Homo sapiens: one gene and its partners. The protein of the gene in region 7 interacts with the protein of the main gene of each other region in a biochemical or structural test. Each region holds a gene or a part of one and is shown on either strand. Other genes may lie near its edges.

Region 1 (3,939 bases), on a different chromosome or scaffold from region 7:
CGAAGACATGTCTAAGAATTCCAGGGCTCTGTGGGGTAATTTGAAAACCAACAATCTAGCCTCACCCCTTGGGAGAATGAGACTGAGCGTGGAAAGGACTTATTCACAGCCTTACAGTTAGTTAGAGGCAAAAACTGGGACTGGAACTCGGTCACATTTCCTAAAACCTTGTCTGAGGCTCTGCAATTTCTCAGCTGCTGTGATGAGGATGATTGCCTCTTGTTCTGTCTAACCTCCCAAGTAAACTCCCTAGAATGAGTTTCATGGCCCCGTCCCATCTATATCTCTCAGTATGAAACCTGAGGCCACGCTGGGGTCAGAAGATGGGGGAAGCTGGAAACATCTTCTTCCTGGGCCAAACGAGGCTTCTGGAAGGAATCTGTGAGTCTGTTCCCCTCTCTACCTCAGCCCTTTCTGTCCAGGGGTGTGGGTGAGAGATGAAGGGAAAGAGTAATCAACCAGCTCCTCCTGGTCAGGAAGGCTGGGCAGGAAGGAATCCTCTGCTGTCCAGATCTGAGGTGTGCAGAAGCTCTTCAGGAAAGTGGAGTTCACTGCTTTGGAGGCCAGGAAGGTTTGCCCCAGGAAGGCCACCCACAGCAGGAAGCTGTGTACCTTAGGGAAGAGTGAGCCCCACATCTGTGGGGCAAAGGGCAGTGGCCACAGCTGGGCCCTTTGCCCAAATCACCTTCCCCAGGTATGCTACATCCACAAGCCTGCACTTGCCTCTGCTCCTCCCCATAGAAGTACAGGCACAGTCACATAGAACTCATGCAAACACACTTACGTATCACATATATGAATACATGCAAACATCCACAAAGGCACAAAAACACCCACGTGCACATAAAATAAACACATATACAGATGCTCCTCAACTTGTGATGGGGTTATTTACCAATAAACCCATTGTAAGTTGAAAATGTGATAGGTCAAAAATGCTTTTAATACACCTAGCCTACCAAGCATCATAGCTTAACCTAGCTTACCTTAAACTTGTTCAGAGCACTTACATTAGCCGACAGTTTGGCAAAATCTTCTACTACAAAGCCTATTTTGTAATAAAGTGTTGGATTTTATGGAATACTGTACTGAAAGCATAGCACTTTCACATCATTGTAAATCAAACCATCCTAAGTCAGGGACTAGCTGTACACGTACACGCCATCCACACACAAACTCCAAACTTCCCCAACGGTGTCCGCCTGCAGGAATATGTGTGTCCACACACAACCACACACGCAAAACACAGGGCCCAGCTGGGAGAAGGATAAAGGAGGCTGTGGAGGAAGTCAAGAGACCAGCTGGGGATCAGCTAGAACAAGAAGCCACTGTACGACAATAAAAACTACAAAGACAGCAAGAAGGACCTTTCAGTGGGCCCCAAAATTCTCTCCTTCTAGTATCTTTCCTCACCCACAACCCATTCCCCAGGGGCCAGTCCGACTCAGGTTGGAGGAATTATCTCTTCTTCAAAGCAAAAAAAAAAAAAAATAAAAGAAGAAGAAGAGGAGGAAGAAGAGGAAGAGGGAGAAGGAGAAGAAGAAGAAAGAAACACCTCAGCCAGGCACAGAGCCCAGAAGTGAGGTCTATGCAGTTGGGTCATACTCTCTAACCTGACTCGAATTTATCCTATGACTTTGGTCAGGCCCTCAACCTTTTCTGAGTCTCCATCCGCTCATCTAGAAAATGTCCCTGTCTCCTGAGACCTTAGGGGATTGGGGAGCAACCTCTGATCCCCAGCTGGGATTAGGGGGGACAGGGGGCATGAGGGGAAATAAATGTTTTCTAAAAGAGCCAAGGACAGTAGAAACTTAAGCCCCAAACCCGAGGAAGCCCGAGTGGAGAAGATGAAGTTCGGAGGGGTGGGGTGAGAGAGGAGAGGCCTGGAGGGGCAGGAGGGGCCCCAGCACTTACCTCCTTCTCGGCCTTGGCCTCCTCCACTGTCACGGTGCTATGATTCTTGTGCTCCTGGAACATGCAAAGGTAGCAGATGCAGGTCTGGTCGGTCTGGCAGAAGAGCTCCATCGTCTTGCCATGCACGGGACACTTGCGGGCCTCAAAGTCCCGGATGGGCTCGAGCAGCTGGTGGTCTCGGAAGGCGGCGCCCTCCAGGTGGGGCTTGAGATGCAGCTCGCAGAAGGAGGCCTGGCACACCAGGCAGGACTTGACCGCCTTCTGCTTGTTGCCGATGCAGGAGTCGCACAGCACCTCCTCGGAGCCGGACTTGGACCGTGAAAAAAGGCCCGTGTCGGCCCGGGGGTAGCTGTTCCGCCGGGTCTCCCCGGGCTCCATGATGGACACCGTGGGCTTCCGGGACTCCGAGAAAATGGACTTGCGCAGCTCGCCCTTTTCGGCAAAGGTAACGGGTGGCTTCTTGGCAGCCCCCAGCTGGAGCCCTGCGTACGGCGACCTCTTGCCTTCCATAGAGTCCATGCTGAAGTAGTTGGAGTTCTTGTCGTCCCCGGACTCGACAAACTGGATGATGGGTCGCCGCCACTCATTGCCCGCGAACAGGGCGCTCCTACCTTCCCCTGGCTTCAGGGCGCTGCCCAGGCTCTTGCCCTCAGCTGCCTCCCCGCCGTGCCCGTTGGTGGTCTTGGCATCCTTGCCGTCAGCCTTGGTGCCATTCTCCAGGCTGCCACTGGGGCCCGACGGGCTCCGGGCATCCCTGGCTTCTGGGCTCGACCCGTTGCTCCTGGAGGCATCTGCAGCTTCCATCGCAGGGTGCTTGGCTGAGCTGTTTCAGGCTTGCTGGGGTTCAGGATAGGTGACCTTTCTGGCAGGCGTCTCGGCAGGGAGTGGGGCAGGCAACCACGAGGACTAGAGACACACCTGTGAGGAGGAGGAGGGGGAGGAGGCGGAGGAGGAGGAGGGGGAGGAGTGGAGGGGAGGAGCAACAGGCACAAGCCTGACACAGCGGCCCGGGAGAAGCAGGGAGCCCCGCAGCCAGCAGAGCAGATAATTGCACAGGAACCACGCCCTGCACATTCATCCCTAACCTGATTTTTAAAAGAAGTGTTTTTTCTCCCCCAGCTTATTTTCCACAACTCAGCAACCAGTTGGGCTGCTTCCCTCTGACGCACTTGCTTCTCATCCGGGGAGCGGGGAGTCTCCGTCTTCACAAGTGGGCAGGCTTCACTGAGCCCAGAGGCCCCTGGGGCAGAAGGTGAGGTGTCTGCAGAGGCCTACCAGACACAGGGCTGTTAACTGGGTCACACAAGCCAAATAGCCTTGTAATTTGCAGGCCTGAGTTTCAGAGGAAAGATTGTCCACCCTGGGACTGTATCGCTGCTTTTCACCTTAAGGGGGAAGGATGGGTTCCATTTGATTTGGCTACTGAGTATTGAACCCTACTTGCCAACCTCCAGGCACTTTCCTAGGTATTGCATATATTACGAGCTCATTCAGGCTTCCCTAAAACCTGTTCAATTACCCCTTTTTAACAGATGAGAAAACAGGCTTTAAGAAGATAACTCACTGGCCTAAGTCAAGTGGCCGAGCTGGGATTTGAACCCTAAGCCTTTGAGAAGCCAAAGTCCCTTCTTCAGCTGGGTGGTCATGGAGTCACCTGAATATCTCATCAGAAGATGGCTTCTGAGAGTCTGTCCTATCCCAATGGCCCCAACAAGATACATATAGACCTTAGATTATTGCTACCTGCGTGGATTCAAATGACCAAGGCACAACAATGAGGGGAATCCAAGCAATGCCAGCCCAGGTGGTTGGGTCCTCAGGGCCCAAACACTTGACTCTCACCTGTCTCCACACTTGGTCTGCTGTGTGACTCAGAAAACACCTGCCCATCCTCTCTGGGCCAGGCCACAGGCAATGCCCTCCAAAAAGAGGTCAGCAAAGTGTGAGATTCAGATAATCTCAGAAGTCACCTGTTCAAATATGACTATCATATAAATACAGACCTCAGGAAGAAAAGTGAGAAAA
Region 2 (3,500 bases), on a different chromosome or scaffold from region 7:
CTGGGCTTCGTCTCAACAACAAAAAGCTGTGTGGAAAGATACACATAAAATTTACTATCTCAACCTTTTTTTTTTTTTTTCTTTTTCTTTGGAGACAGGGTCTGGCTCTGTCATTCAGGCTAGAGTGCAGTGGTGAGGTCAAGGCTCGCTGCAACCTCCACCTCCCAGGCTCAAGCATTCCTCCCACCTCAGCCTCCCGAGTAGCTGGGGTTACAGGTGTGAGCCACCAGGGCCAGGTAATCTTTTTATTTTTTGTAGAGACAGGGTTTCACCATGTTGCCCAGGCTACAGTCGAACTTGCGTAGGCCTCCCAAAGTGCTGGGATTACAGGTGTGAGCAGCCACGCCGGGCCCATCTCACCCATTTTTCAGTGTATAGTTTCTGTAGTGTTAGGTACATTCACACTGTTACACAACAGAACTACAACTCTGTACCCATGAAACCCTAACTCTCCTTGTCCCCTCCCCCAGCGCCCAGCCACCAGCATTCTCCTGTCTCTCTGAGTGTGACTACTCTAGACACTGCATAGACGCAGAATCATAGGATCTGTCCTTTTGTGACTGGCTTATTTCACACAGCATGATGTCTTCAAGGGTCATCCACATCGTAGCATGTGTCAGATTCTCTACCTTTTTAAGGCCGAATAATTTTCCACTACATGGATAGACCACATTTTGCTTATCCGTTTATCTGCCAGTAGATACCCAGGCTGTTTCCACCTCTTGGCCGTTTTGAATAATGCCACTATGAACATAGGTGTATAGGTATATGCCTTTAGAAAAACCAAAGTGGCTGGGCGCGGTGGCTCATGCCTGTAATCCTAGCACTATGGGAGGCCGAGGCGGGTGGATCACCTGAGGTCAGGAGTTCAAGACCAGCCTGACCAATATGGTGAAGCCCCGTCTCTACTAAAAATACAAAAATTAGCTGGGTGTGGCGGCAGGCGCCTGTAATCCCAGTTACGTGGGAGGCTAAGACACTGAGACAGGAGAATCGCTTGAACCCGGGAGGCAGAGGTTTCAGTGAGCCAAGATTGTGCCACTGCACTCCAGCCTGGGTGACAGAGTAAGACTCCGTCTCAAAAAAAACAAAAAAAAACCTAAGGTGTTCTGGATTTATAAACCCCTCTGACCCTGAGGGTGTCCGAAGGGCTTGTGGTAGGCAATAATTTCCAGCACTAGAGAGGCAGCGTTGCTTGGTGGGTAAGAGTATACACAGGTGACAGACTGCCTGGGCTCAAATCCAGGCCCCCCACCCCACACCCCCACCCCCGCCCCGCCCTGCCACTTACTAGCTGTAGGATCTTAGGCAACTTATCTTGTGTGCCTCAGTTTCCTCATCTGTAAGGTGGGAATAATAGCACCTACCTACCTTGCAAGGATTGAATTATATGCACAAAGTTGTTGAAACAGTGGCAGGCATAGAGCAAAGAGTAAATACTCATTTTAGTCCTGAGTCACACTCCTGATAACATCATTTCACAGAGTTGGAATTGGAGGCCTGGGGCTTGCCTGACGTCACACAGCTTAAAAGTAGTGAGGTTGGGACAAGACCCAGGCACTCTAACGCCTGCATGACCATAGTAGGTTCTGATCATGTAAAAGGATGCTGTTTCATGGAAGGGCTTACTGTGCAAGACAGCCATGCTGGGGCCCCAGGGGTCAGTTCCCACCTGGGTCAGGGGCTCACTGGGCTCACAACCTGGAATCTCAACTCCTCCACCCTCCACGAAGGGTGCTACTCCATGCCAAGGGCTTATTCTGTGACAAGCCTACACACTTTTTTTTTTTTTTTTTTTTTTTGAGACAGAGTCTTGCTCTGTCGCCCAGGCTGGAGTGCAGTGGCGCGATCTTGGCTCACTTGCAAGCTCTGCCTCCCGGGTTCACACCATTCTTCTGCCTCAGCCTCCTGAGTACCTGGGACTACAAGCGCCCGCCACCACGCCCGGCTAATTTTTTGTATTTTTAGTACATACAGGGTTTCACCGTGTTAGCCAGGATGGTCTCGATCTCCTGATCTCGTGATCCGCCCACCTCAGCCTCCCAAAGTGCTGGGATTACAGGTGTGAGCCGCCGTGCCCCGCCACCCACACACTTTTATGTGCCATGTCGTCACGATTCAGCGAGGACGGATCCATTAGGAGCACAGACTCTGGGGTCAGAGGACTTGGGTTCAAATTATGGACCCACCACTAGCCTTGAGACCTTGGTCAAGCCACTGAGCTTCTCTGTATCTGTGTCCTCTTCTCTCAAAAGAAGAGAACAATAATATCTACCTTGGTGGACATTATGAGGATTGAGTGAATATATACAAGCACTTAGAATGTGTTTGGCACAAGGTGGAAACTAGAAATAGAACTGGACATAGCCATAAACAGGCCAGGCACGGTGGATCACGCCTGGAATCCCACCCAGGTGTTGTACACATCTGTATTTAAGGCCCACGTGACACCAGCCTTGAATGTCTTAGGAAGACTGTAGATTTGATTCTTGAAGCAGCAGTCAGTCATTGTAGGTTTGTTTGCAACGGCATGACTGAAGTGAAAGCTGTGCTTTCGCTGTTGGGGGAAATATAAATTAGTACAGTCACTATGGAAAATAGTATGATGATTTCTCAAAAAACAAACTAGAAATAGAACTACCGGGGCGCAGTGGCTCACGCCTGTAATCCCAGCACTTTGGGAGGCTGAGGTAGGTGGATCACCTGAGAGTTTCAAACAAGTCGGACCAACATGGTGAAACCCCATCTCTACTTTAAAAATACAAAAGCCAGGCATGGTGGCGCATGACTGTAATTCCAGCTACTTGGGAGGCTGAGGCAGGAAAACTGCTTGAACCGGGAGGCAGAAGTTGCAGCGAGCTGAGATTGTGCCATTGCACGCCAGCCTGGGTGGCAGAGCAAGACTCCGTCTCAAAAAAAAAAAGAAAAACGAAGAAGAAAAAAAGAGCCATAAACAGAAAAAAGAAAATAGCCATTTCACAGGTGGGGAAACTGAGGCACAAAGGGTTTGAATGACCTGCCTACAGTCAGCCTGCTCAAAGATGGCAGGAACAGGCTTCCTATCAGTTCTGCAGACCACAGACCCCAGACCCCATGTGTGGGGATGCCTGAACACAGGCACCTCACTCCTGCACTGCTTCAGGGACCTGTTTCTGGGCACACCCACACATCACCATGTGCCGACAAACGCACGTCCCAGCTAATTGTCCCAATCGTTCCCAGCGTGGGCCAGAAACAGCTCCTGTGTCTGGCACGTGCCCTTCTCCGGAAGACCCAGATCCTCATCCTGGACGAGGCTACTGCTGCCGTGGACCCTGGCACGGAGCTGCAGATGCAGGCCATGCTCGGGAGCTGGTTTGCACAGTGCACTGTGCTGCTCATTGCCCACCGCCTGCGCTCCGTGATGGACTGTGCCCGGTAAGGCTCCCGCCCCGGCCTGACCTCACAGCAGCCCTGCAGTGGTGGGGGAAGGAGGCGGAGGCAGTCCTGGGCCACTGGGC
Region 3 (3,500 bases), on a different chromosome or scaffold from region 7:
GCGTGAGCCACCGTGCCCCGCTCTGTGTTGTGTTATAATCCTCTGTCTCCCTCACTGGATTGTAAATGCCTCAGGAGCAGGGATGGCCTCTGACTTATTTTGCATTCCTACCCCTAGGACATGGCACACAGCAGCTGTCAAATGTCTCCTGGACGGCTCATGGGTGAAGGTAGGTCTGTGTCCTTTGGGGTGTCCAGAACCTCAGAGCTGCCGTTGCTGCTGTGGGAGGGGAGCAGTGAGGGGGTCTCTAGGTGGGGATCTTGTGCTCTGACAGAGGCAGCTCTTCAGGGTGGTAGCTGGTTTCCCCACAGAGAAGGCTGTCTCTCACCCCAGGCAGAAGAGGACAGATCCATGCATTCAGCCTGGGGAGGAGACCTGGTGTTGCAGGCACATCATGCTTACGGTGGTCAAACCCTCACAGCCCCACGAGGAGCGGGAGAGGCTGGCATAGGACACAAGAGCCTGGGGATGCTTAGGCAGGTTGGGGGGAATCAGATATCAGGAATAAGGACCCACAGAAATCATTTGGTTCAATGCATCTCAAATCTGGTGGCTGCAAAACTCAAAGACTAATTCCCGGACCCTAGCCCAGACCCACTATGTCAGAATGTCCAGGGGATGAGGCCCAAGAAGGGATATTTTAAAAACTGCCCAAAATGTATGCAGCCAGGTTTGAGAACCACTGCTGCATCTACCTTAGGCTTTATACACAGACTGTGCTACAAGTAAATGGTTCTCAAAACAGGTGTGTAAAACAGAAGAAAGGATACACACATCATTCAACAGACTACAGTGAACCTGCCAGACCACGCATCAAGGCGAATACATAAGACAGTCCTTGCCAAGCTGCGTCCTTGAGCCCGCCTGAATCCCGGCAGGGTGGAGTTGAGGGCGGCCTCTCTACTTCATTTAGCCCACCAGACCTTCGGACCTGAGGGTCTCTGATCCAGCCTCTCGGGGCCACCACCCCCTGCAGGGCTCCAGGAAGAGTCAAATTGCCCGGTGGGCCAGAGCTCTCCCTCCCTTTTGTTGCCGCTTGGCGCCTGGCAGGTCAGAGGTCACTGGGCCCAGCAGCCCCAGTCCCTGGATGGGTGGAGCACCCACAAAACAGCCAGGCTGTGAAGAGGCCCACTTTGGAGTGAGAAGGGGCTGCTTCTTGCGTGTCATTTTGCAAAAAGAATCTCTGTCTCTTCCTCTACCTTGAGTTACACTACCAAATACTCCTTTTGGTTAATGTAGCTTTCTTATATGCTAGGGGTGAGAGGAGGGGAAAGCCACCTTATTCTGTCAGGAAGGCACTTGGGCATAAATTAATCTGTAGGCCAAGTGCAGTGGCTGATGCCTGTAATTATGCACTTTGGGAGGCCGAAGTGGGAGGATCACTTGAGGCCAGGAGTTCCAGACCAGCCTGGGCAACATAGTGAGAACCCATCTCTACAAAAAGTTTTAAAAGAATTTAGCCGGGCATGGTGGTGGGCAACTGTAGCCCCAGCTACTTAGGAGACTGAAGTGGAAGGCTCACTTGAACTGGGGAGCTCAAGATTGCAATGAAATACCATCACATCACTGCACACCAGCCTGGGCAACAGAGCAAGACCCTGCCTCTAAAACTAAATAAATAATCGGCGGGGCACAGTGGCTCACGCCCGTAATCCCAGCACTTTGGGAGGCCGAGGCAGGCGGATCACCTGAGGTCAGGAGTTCTAGACCAGCCTGGCCAACATGGTGAAACCCTGTCTCTACTAAAAATACAAAAAATTAGCTGGCGTGGTGGCGGGCGCCTGTAATCCCAGCCGCTAGGGAGGCTGAGGCAGGAGAATGGCTTGAACCTGGGAGGTGCAGGTTGCAGTGAGCCGAGATCGCGCCACTGCACTCCAACTTGGGTGACAGAGCAAGACTCCACCTAAAAATATAAATAAATAAATAATCTGTGACTCCATCAACACTTTCACCTGTTGGCTCCACGTGCATCAGATGAGCTCATTTGGGAGGTCACCTTAACCTCGGATCAACATGGCAGGTCCTCCCACAAGCAGCCTATTTAAAATGTGAGCCACCCCCTTCCCCGGAATTCCCTACCTCCCAGCCTTGTTTTATTTTTCTCTCATGCACTTACTATATCTTAAATGCTTATTTATTCATGTACTTGTTTAAACTACTTTTGATTTTCTGACTTCTTATCATTGGTCTGATTCCTCCACCGTAACAGAACTTCCATGAGGGCGGGGATTTTTCGCTTCCCCCGCAACTGCCTGCGTTTTCGTAGCCCTAGAGCTTCCAACGTACAGTGCGGAAAAGCAACATAACACACTAAGAACCGTGCGGAAAAGGAGAGAAAACCAGACCGCAGGGGCATTTCACAGCTAACCACAGCGGTCCGAGGCGAACGCAGGGTGGAAGAACCCGAGCGAGGCCCGGCAGGGGCGGGGTGAGCCTTGGCCCCGCTCCCGTGCAGGTGTCGCGGGTAAGCTGCCGCGGTTACTGTGAAGCAGGGCCAAGGCCAGCCCTCCGCCTCGAGGCCACTGGTGCTTGGGGGTGGGAAAAGAGTGACCGGGGGCAACTGAGCAAAACATAGAACAGAAACTCCCTCTCGAATAGAGACCCACGCACGGAAGGATGATACACTGTGATTCCCCGACGTGGGCCTGCAGCAAGAGACGGGTGCTAACAGCGTCCGAGCCAATCCGTAAGCATCAGAGGGACAAAGAAATCATAAACAAGAGGCAGGATGCAACTGCTTCAACGCAGAAAGAATGAGTCATCCAGGAAGGCGAGGTGGTGGCGGGTTGGCTGTGGTTTTGCAGAGGCGGGCAGGAGGGGCAGGGGGCCAGGGAGAGGGCAGGGTTGGGAGGGTCTCTTTTAAGGGAATCCTATGCATGAAAGTCTGTGTAAGAAAGGGTGTGCCTCCTACAGAAGGATATTTGTTTTGTCCTAAACTTGCCGTGTGTTCTTGGAGGCGCGGGCCTCCCTGCTGTCATCACACCTCGGATCACCCCAGGCAATCTCGCCCCTGTGGCTTCACCTGGGTCCAGCCAGACCTCTGCTCAGCTCTGCACGTACATGCCCCCTCGATGTCACCTCCTGACTTGGCAAGTCATACACCCTCTCTCTACTTGCCCAGCTTCATTCACAAAACCAGGTCACATTACCCCTCGTCCATCCATGCTCAGTCTGGAAACCCTGGGATCCCAGACACCAGCCTCTCCCTGGCCCTCTGTTTCCAATCAGACGGCCACCCCGACTGACGCTGGGGCCGGGGCACCCTTGGGCGTTATCCAGTCTCCCTGTCCTCCCTCTCCTGCCCCACGCCTCCGACCTTCCCCACATGGCAGTCACAGCCAGACGGCCAAGGTGGGGCCTGCTGCTTCCTGCTTCTGCCTGACAATGGCCCTGGATTCCCCATTCTTCACGGTCAGTCTCACCTTCACACCCCGGCTCTGAGCAACCTTTCTGCTCTCTCCACTCCTCTTTCATGACCCTGGGCCCCTGCTGGCCGCCCT
Region 4 (3,500 bases), on a different chromosome or scaffold from region 7:
GCTGTGGCTTAGGGACCTTCTCATGACAGAAAAGACGCTTTAGAGTTTTGAGAAATCTTTCAAACAAAAGTTTGCTTTCAAGCATGAATAACACTGAAAGCAACACAGTGAGATAAGCAACTCTTTCACCACTAAGGATACCCTCCTCTTCCACCACCACTCTGGAAAACAAGTTTATCTGTGTCACCAGCTTCATTGTCTCAGAACTCTTATTGTAGACAAGTTCCCCCACTATGTGTAATCACATTCAGATATGGCAGCTTGAGCTATTTTTCTAGTCTTGAAAATGTTCAACTCAGTCATTGTTCTTCATCTCCCACTGAGAACAGATTTTTAAAAGAAAAAGTTTATTTCTTATGCAGCAGTGTAATCTGTAACCTGATTCTAACCATCTGAATGAGAAACTGCCTACCTCACCATAGATGTCAAAAAGGCTTCTGGGAGGATGTCAGGCACGTGGGACCTGAGAGCCTGTGAGAGACAGCCGCAATGTCCCAGAGTGCAGATCCCAGGCCAGCAACAGCAGGCCAGACACTACTCCATCCCCAAGACACTTGTTCTTTACCCAGGCACTTTTAAGTATTTAAGCAAGTATTTATTCTGTTCAACTCAATAAGCACCTATTGACTTAACCACCAGATACAAGAGAGCAAGGAAGCAAAAAGGAAGGAAATACAGAAGCAATGGGAGAACCTAGCCTAAGCATCACTTCCAGCTGAATCTATTTGTAGAGTGTTAGTTTGGTCATTAATGGTCTGAGTATCTAACTGCTGAATGAACGTGTTTGTATCTATTCCCCTTTTTTCTGTAGGAAGAGGCTGAATGATCAGCCCCCCCCAGGATTGAAAACTGTCCTGCTGCCAAATGATTATTCATCTATGGATCATCATACAACCCCTACACAATTCACTTACAGTCTACTTTTCATCTTCCCTCCTTCGGAACAATTCCTGGTACAGCATTGTCTTGTTATTTCATCCTATTTATTTTCACTTCTTTCCCAGGGCAACACTCCCTCTAGTGTCTATGTAGGGCTCTCAGGTTCCACTCTTGGTACACAGGGTGAAGGCAAAAAGGGAACTCAAGCCTACAACTCTATGGGTATAGATCACCACAAAGTAGTGGATTGTACCAGTGTGATAATTCTGGGGAACAGGCTGCAGATATTCTACAGATAGCTCCAATCCATGTGATATGCCCATTTCACAACAGGCACAAATACAGAAGAGGAAAGGAAAAATGTAACATTGAGGTCTAGCCCATGACTTTGGCATACATGAGTCTTTGGCACAATGGGATCTGCTTGTCAACCAGCCCCAGCAACCCAGTGTTCTCCAATGTTCTAGTAGCTACACACTTTACTCACTTCCCTCAAGAAGTCTCCCTTGATTAGCTGTGAGTTGTATCATGGATGCCAATTCTGAGAGAAGCTACTCTTCATCTTTCTGGATCCCTTAACTCTCCATGCAATAAAAGCCCCGAAATAATGTTAAATTTATTCATAGCTTATTAGTGTAATCATCTAATGAATATTATTCTGTTTCTACTACAAATTCTGAGTATGAATTTCAAGAATACAGGTCCCCAGTCATTCACTTCTAGATCCTTTTCAATGTCTACTTTAGCACGACATAAAAGATAGACATGGCAAAGACTCATTGACTGGGGACATGAACTATGGGAGGTGGTTGAAATGAGCATCTTGATGAGAACTGGGTTCTAGCCAAGGCCTTGCCATCAGCTCACTGGGAAACCTTGAGCAAGTGCCTCCTTCCTCTGCTTCAACATTTCCATCTGAAAATTAAGGGAAGGCCCCTTCCAGATATAAAAATAACAACTAAACTAAAGTATCTTGAGTGCTTGCTACAAATGGGTCAGGCACTTCTTTTAAGCACTCTGCCCTGTACAGTCTCACTTAATTCTTACAACAGCCCAAGGTAGAGATACTATATCATCACTCCCTTTTTTCAGATGAAGAAACAGCAGAGAGGGTAACAACTTGCCCAATGTCACACAGCTATTAAGAAACAGAGGCAGGACTTGAACCCAGGCACCTGGCTGCAAAATCCATTGATCTTATTTAGTATGTGGCCTGTTTCAGGTTCCCAGTCTATCTGTTCTCAACAAATCCAGAAGAGGATTGCATTCATGATGAAATCTCTCCACAAATATGAATTCACACAAGTTGTACCATATACCCATACTAAATAATCCCACAACCCAATATAATCCTTGATTATCCTACATAGCTTTATTTCCAGTTTTTCCCCTAAAGAAGGTTTTTTCTCTTTCCAGTGCATGCCAAGTAACAGTCCCCTACTTAGCCAAGGGCACAGTTTTACTGACCAAGAACCCTGCTGGCCCCACTCTGCTGCAGGTCCCTCTCATCTCAACCAAGCAGGGATGGCTTCCTCTGATTCCCTGCATGCACTCAATAGCAGAAAACAATCTGTGCAATCCTGAGGTTCTTAGACTCCATTATTTTTTCCAAATTTACTATAGAACATTTATTAGTGTACTATAAACAACAGTATTTCTATAAATAATTAAATCCAAACTACACTGATCAAAATAAATGAGCAAAATATTCCTGGTTGTGATGTAACCAGGCTTGATTCACTCACTAACTCAAATTACAAAGTGACTCACAAGAGGCCCCCATTAACAATGGTTAGTAAGATACAGCTTGTCCAACATTAACTAGCTTGTTATTCATTGTCTGCAGCCACCGCGGTGGGTGGGCAGGTTGACTATAGAGTATGGCCCCAGAACAGAAGGAAAGAATCTATTCCTAAATCTCTCTAACTAGCCTCATACGATACCCATCCTGGGGCCTCAATCTATCCTACCTATAAAATGGGCACCTCATCAGAGTGAAAACACACAAATCCTCTTAGAAGGAAAATGCTCTGTTAACCTGAGAAGAAAGGAGAAAAATGGGTGTGAAGAGGGGATGGCTCTTCCAAGAGAAAAAAAAATAAGCAGGGTCCAAGGCAGGCTGCCATGTTTCTGTCTGAGCCTCATATCCTCATCTCTATCATGAGTGATTTGATGAAGACAATTCCCAAGTGCACTTCCAGTCTTGACATTCTGCAAGTCTCAAATTCCTGTAGTATGTCCCACAGGGATCCTCTCTTCTGCGAGCTCATAGCCTGAAACGATCACTTGACAATTAACCACATATCACCCCATGGCATCTGTCTTGTTGTCATGTGTTATTTAACTTTACAGAAGAGCAGTCTCACATCCAAAGCATGTCGGCAGGACCATGAGGCAAATGCTGTCTTATCCTTCTTTGTCTCCTCTCTATCACACTTCTACCAACCCCACAGTTTCTAGGACAATGCCACATACACAGGAAACACTCAGAAAATGGATGAATGTCTTATGGGGGTGTCCATCTGATCTCTGAAGTCCATGAGAAGCCAGGATTGTTAACTAGTCCTTATTTCTATCCTCTTACTAAGTAGTGTAGAGACCCCTCTGAATCTTATGTTAAC
Region 5 (3,341 bases), on a different chromosome or scaffold from region 7:
GCACACTCTACCTAGGCCAGGAGATGCTGCCTGGACCTAACTTGGAACAGAGGCTTCCGCTTCGCCTACCTTGTTTCAGGCTTGGCCACTCCCACCCTGTCCCATCCCATCTGCCTGCTCCTTGGGTAGTCCTGAGAGCCGGGCTTACCTGCCTGACAGAAGCATGGATGGGGGAGGGAGACGGCTCACCCTGTTACCCAGAAGAGCAGCCACACAGGCCTCAGAGGCGTCACAGATGGCTGTGAGGTCATGGCCACCCTCCAAGGCCAGCACCACTGCGCCTCCTGCCAGGTTCATCAGTTGCTGCGTCATGTATCCAAAACCTAGAGGTTGGGAGGGGAGAAATGGGAGGGGCGGGAGTGGAGAGGTGACCCTGTTCTCTACCCCTGTGGCTTCCCTGCTTGCTTCCTCCCTAATAAAGAATGACTCACATGTATCAATCACTATTTCCAAAGTGCTTTCACATTGAATGTCGTACAAAACCTACTAGTATGCTTCACTCAAGGCTCAGGGAGGTTAAGGGCCTTGGGAAAGGCCCCACAGCTAGTAAGTGGCAGCAAGGTAGGACCTGAACTTGGGTCATTGACTCTAGCCTGTGTCTTTTTCACTGAGCTACACCCTCTCTTCTTTCTGTACTCTGGGCCCTGTGGCCACCCTCTATTCTGAGAGTGCTGCTTCTCTCTCCCCTTCCTCTGGAGGAGCTGCCAGCCCACCTGGAATCAACCCAGCTGTGGTGGGGAGTCCCACGGCTGAGCTTCCTGCCTACTGGACTTAAGTCCCCATGGGTATGACCTGGTCAAGCCCTCCGTGGTGAACCGGCCTGGTCCTGAGAAAGGGCTTGGGCTGTGCTCGGCTAGGAGATCCCGGGGAATTTCAGGACCAGCTGCCATACTCCAGTCCTCAGGCTGAAAGCCCTGGGCTGGCCACTGCCACCTTCCCTTTCTGACTTGGGAGTGCCTCCCAACTCCCCGCACCGCCTGGCTCTCTGTCCCTAACGTCCCCCTCAGCTGAGGCTCCCTTACATTTGGCAGAAACATGGTAGCCACCCAGTGGGGCCGGGTGACCCTCAGCAGCATCAAATCCAGCAGACACCAGGACTAGGTCTGGAGAGAACTCTCGGGCGATGGGCATCACGACTATCCTGTGAGGTCACAAGAAGTGGCGATCATCGTACTGTGCAGGGTTGCCAGGGGCGGTCCTGCCAACTTTGCGGTGGGGCACCCTGTTCTTAGGACTCCAAGGCTCCCAGTGCCCCAGCACAACTGGCAGATTTCTCTGACCTCCTTGACCTTGGCTGGCCACCCATGTCCCTGGCACACACAGCCTAAGGACTCAGCCCCCTAGGGGACTTAACTAGCAAGAGGCAGAAAGGAGCCAAGGATGGAGCACCAGAGGGAATGAAAGAGGAGTGTGTGTGACCATGTGTGTGTGCATGTGTGTGTGTGCATGCAAGCATCTGTGGGGTGCAGTGGCCGGAGCCACAGGGAAAGGGTAATCTCACAGCCTTGCGGAGATGGACTCTGGTCACAAAGCTTCAGGGACTACAAGTGCTCAGTCCTTTGGACTGAGTTGACCACACCCAGCTACTCACTACTTGAGAGCTGAGTAGGGGACAACTAGGTCCTCTGAGGTTCTGCGCCACCTGGCTACATTCTCTCATCCTCTCCCTCTTCCAGGCCCCCCCCCAGCTGCCTTCCTCTACCCCTGATCCAACTCTGGGGCCTGCTTGGGTGTTCTTCATAGCCCTGGGCTCTGAGAAGACTCCAGGAACTCCAGCCCAGGGCTCTCGTAGAATTAGCTGTCATGGAGATAACTCCAGAAAAGTGTTTGAAGATCCATTTCCAGAATTCTCTTTTCCCAAATAGAGTGGCAGCCTTCTCTGACTAAATGTGCCAGCTCTGCTCACTCCACCACCCACCTGCCAGCAATCAGTTTGACATTGGCTCTCGGTAATGTATGCCTTTGCAAAGCACCCTTTGACTTTTGCATTCTTCTCTCTGTTTGTCCTATTCTCACTGGCGTTCACCTACAATGTCTAGGAACTGGTGGGGACAGGCTGACAATCCAACTGATCACCTCCCCCCTGGTGCTCTTGGGAGAAGGGACAGGAGAGGGTGGACTTGCCCCTCTGGGCCCCCAGAGCACGTACCTGAAAGCAGCCAGGTACTCAGGATCCCCCATGGGGGGGTCCAGACCTCCAGCCCAGGCCACATTGACATTGAAGCCCTCACCGCTGCCAGCCCCTACCTGGAAAACAGGAGGCAAGAGAGACATGAGGACAGCAGAGTCCCAGAAGGGGAACACCAGTTTGTTAGAGCTGCCAGCCCAGCTCATCCAGCCTCCCCATTTCCAGGTGGGGAAGTTTAGGATCAGAGAGGCTCAGCAGTCTGCCCAGGATCACACAGCTCGTCATGACAGAGGCAGAGTAAGTGTCAGGAGGAGGTCAATGAGGCTGGAAGATGTGGCCCTGACATGCGGTTACCTCATCCACAGCCCCACTCCCCGGGAAGAAGTTGCCGTCGTCATGGCGATGCAGGGAGATGTAGAGCACACTGGGGTCTTGGTAGAAGGTTTGCTGGGTGCCGTTGCCATGGTGCACGTCCTGTGTAGGGAGACGGGCAGCGATTAGGGAAGGCAGAGAGATGGGGGCCAGGACAGGTTAGAAGGGTTTCAAGGTCAGTGGCCATTCTGAGGTCAGGACCCTAGACTGGGATCAGGAACCTGGGGTTCCTAAAGCCACACGGTCGAGTGGCCCCACGTAATCCACTGCCCGGCTCTGAACCTCGGCCTCTCTGTGCTGGACAGGGCTGGCTGTAATATGAGATCCTGAAGGAGAGGAGGTGTCCCAATCTCAGGCCAGCCCACCTGAGAGAGTAACTGTGTGGACATGGGGTTAGTGGCAAGGAGAGGGAAGGGTTCAGGGTTACACATATCAGGAACCACTCTGTCTTGCATAAAGTCATGAAGTTATGAGGAGATCAGAAACCAAGCTCGGTTACAGAGGGGCAGGTACACGAGGCCCAGCCCCATCCCTCGTAGGGAGAGCTGGGCCCTACACTCGACTCACAGGACCATGCGGGAACTCAAGTGTGCAAAGGTCCTCCACCGCTCTCAACTTCTGCTTAGAAATGTCTCTTACACAGCTGTCAGTGCAGAAGGGACATAGCTTAGCAGTTAAACGCAAGCACTCTAGAGCTAACCCGCCTGGGTTCAAATCCATCTCATGACTTACGAATGACTGTGTGTGAGTTACTTAATCTCTCTGTGCTCACTTTCATCTGTAAAGTGGGTTATAGTCAGGATTAAATCCATCATGTGTAAAACCATCAGTGTCTGGATGT
Region 6 (3,500 bases), on a different chromosome or scaffold from region 7:
GTCCAGTTTCTTCCCCTACCCTGATTTTGTAGCTGAAATATGCACATTCTATGGGTACTGACGCTCTAACTAGAAGGGTCAGGCAATGCATTCTCTTTTCTCTTGGGGAGTTCATTACAGACCCCCAAATATGGAGACACATCATTGATACAAGACTTGAAATATATAACTTGTTGATTATTGCTAAGGTACTGACTAAAGACAATTTTGAAACAAAAGTAGGAAGAAAAAATAAATCTCATAATCTCACTACCTAAAGACGGCCACTGTAAAGTAAAAGTTATAAAAATGTTTACCATCATTGCATGCTTACTATGTGGCAGATACTTTGCTAAGAGAAAAGTATCCTTTATGCTTTGTGTCATTTCATCCCCACCACAACTCCCTAAGTTAGATATTCTCCTCATTTTGGAAATGAGAATATTGAGGCTCAGAGGAGCAGGTGATCACATCTGGTAGGTGGTAGAGCTGCAATTTGACTCCAGGTCTCTTTGTCTTCAGAGCTGTTTCTTTATTACATGGTTACAATGATAATACATCACTTTTTAAAAAAAAAATTCACTTGCCATTGACTTGGCATACATTAAAAAAATTTGTTTAATTCAGACAAAACAGACATGAACGGCTTTGAAAGTTCATCATAATGGAACCATCTGGAGATAACCACTGTTAACATATTTATGTAAATTCTTGTTCTGTTCATATATGAATGTCTTTATATAAACATACATACACATGGGCTAAATACTATATGCTATGTTCTTTGGCTTTTTTTTTTTTTCATTTAGCAGCATTCCATCCTAGTATGATTTATCTCACGCCTTCCTTCCCCGTGCTTACCAGCTTTCTGCTGTTTGGACACGTCATGTGTGTTTAACCATCCCCTGATGAGGGTTGTCTGGGGTGAGATCCTTCGGGGCAGAACAGAGGAGCCTTGTGCAAGTGACTTATTGAGAACGTGCTCTCGGAAGGGAAGGAGGAATGCAGCCTAGGGTGGGGTACTGCTGAGCGAGGATGTGGGCTCAGCGGCTGTCCAGTTCAGTGTGACCCCGCGGGGAGCTCTCGAGCATGAATTGCTCCACAGAATTCATCCCACCTGAGGCAAGGGCGCTGTGGAGCATCCATTCCACTGGCAGTTCTCTGTAGAAGGTGGTGGTGTGAACTCTTAGCCACTAATAAGGGGCATCTGGCAGCATCCACCACGAGACTGAGTCCCAGTTTTCACAATTTTAAACCCCACTGCAATAAACATTCTTATACATGTATCTTTGGACATATTTATTCAACTTTTTCCCCGAGAATAAATTCCTAGAAATAGAAATACTCAGTCAAATAGATTTTATCTTTTTTTATTTTTTAATAGAGACAGGGTCTTGCTATATTGCCCAGGCTGGTCTTGAACTCCTGGGCCCAAGCAATCCACCCACTTTGCCCTCTGCAAGTGCTGGGATTATAGTTGTGAGCCACTGTGCCTGCCATTTTTTTTTTTTAAATATTGAGCTCAGCTGGGGGAGGTGGCTCACGCCTGTAATCCCAGCACTTTGGGAGACTGAGGCAAGCGGATGACCTGAGGTTGGGAGCTCGAGACCAGCCTGACCAACATGGAGAAACCCCATCTCTACTATAAATACAAAATTAGCCAGGCGTGATGGTGCATGCCTGCAATTCCAGCTACTCGGGAGGCTGAGGCAGGAGAATCGCTTGAACCCGGGAGGCAGAGGTTGCAGTGAGCCGAGATCATGCCATTGCACTCCAGCCTGGGCAACAAGAGTGAAACTCGTCTAAAAAAAAAAAAAAAAAAAGAACAATATTGAGCTCAGCTCATCTGTATAGTATTTCAGAATATGATACTGAGGGTGCTTTATTATGTATTTAGGTATAACTATTCTTTTATATTTTTAAGTAGGCAGTACACTTTCTTGTTAAAAACAGTTACAACAAAACAGTGTAAACAATTTCCAACCCTCCTCCTTTATATGTCCCATGGTCACTGCTGTGGTGACATGTCTCCTTGGCATGTCTCCTTGCAGATTTTTCAATGCATGCAAAAACACATACTTATTTTTTAATATAGAAATGGGGGCCGGGCGCGGTGGCTCACACCTGTAATCCCAACACTTTGGGAGGCTGAGGCGGGCAGATCACTTGTGGTCAGGAGTTTGGGACCAGCCTGGCCAACATGGTGAAACCCCATCTCTGCTAAAAATACAAAAATTAGCCGTGCGTGGTGGCTCATGCCCATAGTCCCAGTTACTTGCGAGACTGAGGCAGGAGAATCACTAGAACCCAGGAGGCAGAGGTTGCAGTGAGCCGAGATTGCACCACTGCACTCTAGCCTGGGCAACAGAGCAAGACTCTGTCTCAAAAAAAAAAAAAAAAAATATATATATATATATATACACACACATATATATAAAATATAGTTATATAATATATAATATAAATGGGATCTTAGAATACCTATTCTTCTGAATCTTACTTTCCCCTCCAATTAATTTATACTGGATTTCTTTTTTTCTTTTTTTTTTGAGACAGCATCTCACTCTTTTGCCCAGACTGGAGCACAGTGACATGATCTCAGCTCATTGCAAACTTCACCTCCACCTTCAAGTGATTCTTGTGCCTCAGCCTCCCAAGTAGCTGAATTACAGGCACACGCCACCATGCCTGGCTAATTTTTGTATTCTTAGTAGAGAAGGGGTTTTGCCATGTTGGCCAGGTTGGTCTTGAACTCCTGACCTCAAGTGATCCACCCTCCTCTGCCTCCCAAAGTGCTGGGATTATGGGTGTGAGCCACTGCGCCCGGCCTATAAGTGGATTTCTTTCTGTTCTTAGCACATAAAAAGTGTCCTTTATGTGTCCGTTGAAAGAATAAAAAAAAATCAGTGTCCTTTTTAGACAGCTATTTAGGATTCCATTGACTGGCATGAATCACAGCACCCAAGTGACCCCCAGTACTGCCTGGTAGCCATGTCCATCTCCCTAGTTCATTCACTATCTCATGCTACTCTCTTAATGACTTTGGCAACCCCTCTTCTCAAACCTCCAATACCTCCTTGCACAACCTCATTCTCAGCTAAAGACCTTGCTTCTTATTCCACTGAGAAAAATAGAGTAACCAGAAGAGAACATCTGCAAGCATCCTCCGCCACATCTGTCTACTTGCTTGCATCTGCACCCGTGTTTGTGGTTTTCCTTTCTGATATGGTGGATGGACTCTCCTCATACCTGCCTGGTGCCAATTCCTCTGGCTGGGCTCTGGAAACCCAGCTCTCCTGTCACTCCTGCTCAAGGACATTCCTTCAGCAATTCTCCCCTCTCTCTATTGCATTGTCAAATGTTCCCGTCAGTTAACGCACATGCTGTTATTTCTCCATTTTTACAAACAAACAAACAAACCCCTCTTGATCCCATAGCTGTCTGTAGCCAGGATCCTTTAAAGCCCAACTCTTCCAAGCAGTTGTCTATATTGTTCTTACCAATCCTCTCTTTCTCTCTTT
Region 7 (3,500 bases):
ACTTGCCTAAGGTCACACAGCTAATAAGAGGCAGAGCAGAGCTTGCTTTGACATCAGGAATCTGGATCCAAAAATCTAAATCCTTAATCGCACAATTTTAGGTGTCATTATTATCACCATTTTACTGATGAATCCTCTCCGAGGGAGGTGGTAAGCCTTGGAAAACTGTAGAGGTGACAAGGCCACCATTTCTCCGAGCCCCACAAGAGGAAGGTCAGGCGGAGGTCAGTGACCCTAGAGGAAGGAAAGTGGGTCAGAGGAGGAAGGCTGCTGTCTCTCCAGTTTCTCCACTCCTGGCTCAGCCTTTGAGGTGCTAGTTGTGAGGCTCCTCAAGTCCCATCTGGTCTACAAAAGTATTTGTCAAGCTCAGGGTAGGCCCAGCCATCTTTTTAAATTTTTTTTCTTTTTTTTTTTTTTTTGAGGAGTTTTGCTCTCGTCACCCAGGCTGGAGTGCAGTGGCGCAATCTCGGCTCACTGCAACCTTCGCCTCCCGGGTTCAGGTGATTCTCCTGCCTCAGCCTCCCAAGTAGCTGGGATTACAGGCATGAGCCACCATGCCTGGCTAATTTTAGTATTTTTGGTAGAGATGGGGTTTCACCACGTTGGCCAGGCTGGTCTGGAACTCCTGACCTCAAGCAATCCACCCACCTCGGCCTCCCCAAGTGCTGGGATTACAGGTGATGAGCCACCGCGCCTGGCCTGCCATCTTAAGTTATTTGAGAAATGGAGGAAGGATAAACATTTTCAGCATTGAGGGCATGGTGGATGGTTCATAGAAGTAAGGTGCCTACTGCTAGTCTGGCCTTGAGCTGTGAGAGAGGGCAGCATGGCGATCAGGTCATTAGCTGTGTGGCTTCCTGCTCCACTGTCCTCCCTCTGGGCCTTCCACCTGCAGACTCTTCTTCCCCTGTCTCCTCCAGGTTCAAATTCTCCTGTCTTCTGGGTTGAGCTTTTCTGTGAGAACTGTCATGGCACTCTCTTATTTTATCCTTTTTTTTTTTTTTTGAGATGGAGCCTGGCTTTGTCACCCAGGCTGGGGTACAGTGGTGCGACCTTGGCTCACTGCAACCTCTGCCTCCCGGGTTCAAACGATTCTCCTGCTTCAGCCTCACAAATAGCTGGGACTACTGGTGTGTGCCACCACACCTGGCTAATTTTTGTATTTTAAATAGAGATGGGGTTTTGCTACGTTAGCCAAGCTAGTCACGAACTCTTGACCTCAAGTGATCCGCCCACCTTGGCCTCCCAAAGTGCTGGGATTACAGGTGTGAGCCACCGTGCCTGGTATATTTTATCTTTATATCCTGACACCTGTGTAACACTCAGCAGATGTCTATCCATTGAACACATGTGCTGCTCCTACGGCTCCAACCACTTCCTGGATTGCAGTATATTTCCATGAACTATCCACTGGACCATAGTCTCTCTGAGAACAAGGCAGGCTCTGGGTCTGATGTTTCATGAGAAAACCTACAATAGCAAGCTCAGGACCTGAAACCCACTGGGCCCTCAGCCAAAGCATTTTATTTTATTTTATTTTTATTTTTTTATTTTTTATTTTTATTTTATTGTATGTTTTTTGAGAGGGAGTCTCGCTGTGTCGCCCAGGCTGGAGTGCAGTGGCACGATCTTGGTTCACTGCAAGCTCCGCCTCCTGGGTTCACGCCATTCTCCTCCCTCAGCCTCCCGAGTAGCTGGGACTACAGGTGCCCGCCACCACGCCCTGCTAATTTTTTTTTTTTTTTTTTGGTATTTTTAGTAGAGACGGGGTTTCACCGTATTAGCCAGGATGGTCTTGATCTCCTGACTCATGATCCGCTCACCTTGGCCTCCCAAAGTGCTGGGATTACAGGCCTGAGCCACCGTGCCCTGCCAGTCAAAGCATTTTAATTGGATGAACAATGAATGATGAACAGGTTTATTTGCTTTGCCCTTAATAATGTATACGTAGTTAGAAATAGTGTATGGATCCTGCTAAAAATGGACAATATAATTAGCTTTTACTGTATGCCTGGATCATGCCAGGCATTTAAGGATCCCTTTTACCAGGATGAGACAAAGGCTTGGAGAAATTAAGAAACTTCTCTAAGATAAGAGGGCCAGTAAGTGGTAGAATTGGAATTTGAGTCATTATTTGTTTGACTCCATTTGGGGTATGAGTGTGTGTGTGTGTGTGTAAGTGCTATGTAAACCCCAGCCATTCAGCTCCATGGTGGGAGAGTAAGACCTGTCTGAGGTTCCCCAAAGCTGCTGAAGATCAGCTGATTGTTTTGAGTCAGCAGAGCCTTGGTGGCCTGTCGATGACCCCCAGAAAGAGAGGAAACGTGTAGTGTGGAGCAGTGTGGTGGGGCCTGCCAGGGGAGCAGGGAGGTAGGGACTCAGCAGCAATTTCCCCCAGACAGGCAGACCCTATCCAAAGCAGGCTGTGCCATGTGGCCCACATATTCCCTTTTCCTTTGAGCCCTGTGGGGCTGCCAACCTGGAGTACCCTGTGGCCAGAGTGGCTGGTGGGTCTGAGCTACCTCTGTGTCCCTTCTTTCTAGCCTGTCCTTTCTACACTTTCTGCCATGGTGGGCCGCAGTAGGATGATTTGGGCTGCTTTCCGAGGGTCGCTGTGGCTCTGGGAATGATAGAGGAGCCAGAGCTGGATGGGAGTGGGGAGGGCAGGCTTGGCCTGTGAACTTGGCTGTGAGTCCAAAAATGTGAGCATCACAAGGGAGCCAAGCACATTCCCAGCTCTGGGCAGAAGCTGCTCTAAGAACAAGGGGGGCCAGGCACGGCGGCTCACGCCTGTAATCCCAGCATTTGGGGAGGCCGAGGTGGGCGGGTCACCTGAGGTCAGGAGTTCAAGACCACCCTGGCCAACACGGTGAAACCCTATCTCTACTAAAAATATAAAAATTAGCCAGGCGTGGTGGCAGGCACCTGTAATCCCAGCTACTCGGCAGGCTGAGGCAGGAGAATCACTTGAACCCGGGAGGCGCAGGTTGCAGTGGGCTGAGATTGCACCACTGGACTCCAGCCTGGGTGACAGAGCGAGACTCCGTCTCAAAAAAAAAAAACCAAAGAACAAGTGGGGACTGAACTTCCCAACCTCCTCCTTGCTGTCTTCCCTCTCTGCTCAGAGCTCCTGGCATGCGTCATCTTACCCTTGGTCATGTCTTCCCATCTCTGTACTCCTGGCATATTTGACAGTCTGAGGGTCCTCAAACTTTTCCACTCCCCTTCCTAGCCCCAAACTGTAGTTACTGCCTGACTTCTTGCCTCACCACATTCCCCCGGCCAAACTACATGCTCCGTGACCACATTCCACACCCTTCATGCCTCACATCATTGTCCTCCAGCACCCACTCTCCACATAGACCCACATTACCTCTGTTATTATATAGGAAAGAATGTGAAATACAGTGGAAAGAGTATGGATTTTGGAGTCAAGCCTGGGGTGAAATTCCAGCTCTGACATCTACCAGTCCTGTGACCTTGGACAAGTTAACTGAATA

The links.
Region 1: the proteins of DVL3 (region 7) and TRIM29 interact in a test that uses a peptide from one of them, tested with the Homo sapiens proteins (one large-scale study listed by IntAct).
Region 2: the proteins of DVL3 (region 7) and ABCC6 interact in a test that uses a peptide from one of them, tested with the Homo sapiens proteins (one large-scale study listed by IntAct).
Region 3: the proteins of DVL3 (region 7) and GNG4 interact in a test that uses a peptide from one of them, tested with the Homo sapiens proteins (one large-scale study listed by IntAct).
Region 4: the proteins of DVL3 (region 7) and SORCS3 interact in a test that uses a peptide from one of them, tested with the Homo sapiens proteins (one large-scale study listed by IntAct).
Region 5: the proteins of DVL3 (region 7) and HDAC7 interact in a test that uses a peptide from one of them, tested with the Homo sapiens proteins (one large-scale study listed by IntAct).
Region 6: the proteins of DVL3 (region 7) and MYOZ3 interact in a test that uses a peptide from one of them, tested with the Homo sapiens proteins (one large-scale study listed by IntAct).

Annotation. Positions count from the first base shown.
Region 1 is NC_000011.10:120,135,314-120,139,252, forward strand, and holds the start of TRIM29 (tripartite motif-containing protein 29), read right to left. Parts: upstream 2,801-3,939; 5' UTR 2,719-2,800; coding exon 1,915-2,718; intron 1-1,914.
Region 2 is NC_000016.10:16,150,495-16,153,994, reverse strand, and holds part of ABCC6 (ATP-binding cassette sub-family C member 6), read left to right. Parts: intron 1-3,222; coding exon 3,223-3,417; intron 3,418-3,500.
Region 3 is NC_000001.11:235,639,785-235,643,284, forward strand, and holds part of GNG4 (guanine nucleotide-binding protein G(I)/G(S)/G(O) subunit gamma-4), read right to left. Parts: intron 3,057-3,500; exon of another isoform or gene 2,481-3,056; intron 2,465-2,480; exon of another isoform or gene 259-2,464; intron 1-258. UniProt on the Homo sapiens protein: Guanine nucleotide-binding proteins (G proteins) are involved as a modulator or transducer in various transmembrane signaling systems.
Region 4 is NC_000010.11:104,647,790-104,651,289, reverse strand, and holds part of SORCS3 (VPS10 domain-containing receptor SorCS3 precursor), read right to left. Parts: intron 1-3,500. UniProt on the Homo sapiens protein: Plays an important role in modulating synaptic transmission and plasticity in the hippocampus, probably by affecting the trafficking and localization ofAMPA-type glutamate receptors in the postsynaptic density.
Region 5 is NC_000012.12:47,785,563-47,788,903, forward strand, and holds part of HDAC7 (histone deacetylase 7), read right to left. Parts: intron 2,603-3,341; coding exon 2,483-2,602; intron 2,248-2,482; coding exon 2,150-2,247; intron 1,142-2,149; coding exon 1,023-1,141; intron 324-1,022; coding exon 190-323; intron 1-189. UniProt on the Homo sapiens protein: Responsible for the deacetylation of lysine residues on the N-terminal part of the core histones (H2A, H2B, H3 and H4).
Region 6 is NC_000005.10:150,664,251-150,667,750, forward strand, and holds part of MYOZ3 (myozenin-3), read left to right. Parts: intron 1-1,263; exon of another isoform or gene 1,264-1,781; intron 1,782-3,500. UniProt on the Homo sapiens protein: Myozenins may serve as intracellular binding proteins involved in linking Z line proteins such as alpha-actinin, gamma-filamin, TCAP/telethonin, LDB3/ZASP and localizing calcineurin signaling to the sarcomere.
Region 7 is NC_000003.12:184,158,377-184,161,876, forward strand, and holds part of DVL3 (segment polarity protein dishevelled homolog DVL-3), read left to right. Parts: intron 1-3,500. UniProt on the Homo sapiens protein: Involved in the signal transduction pathway mediated by multiple Wnt genes.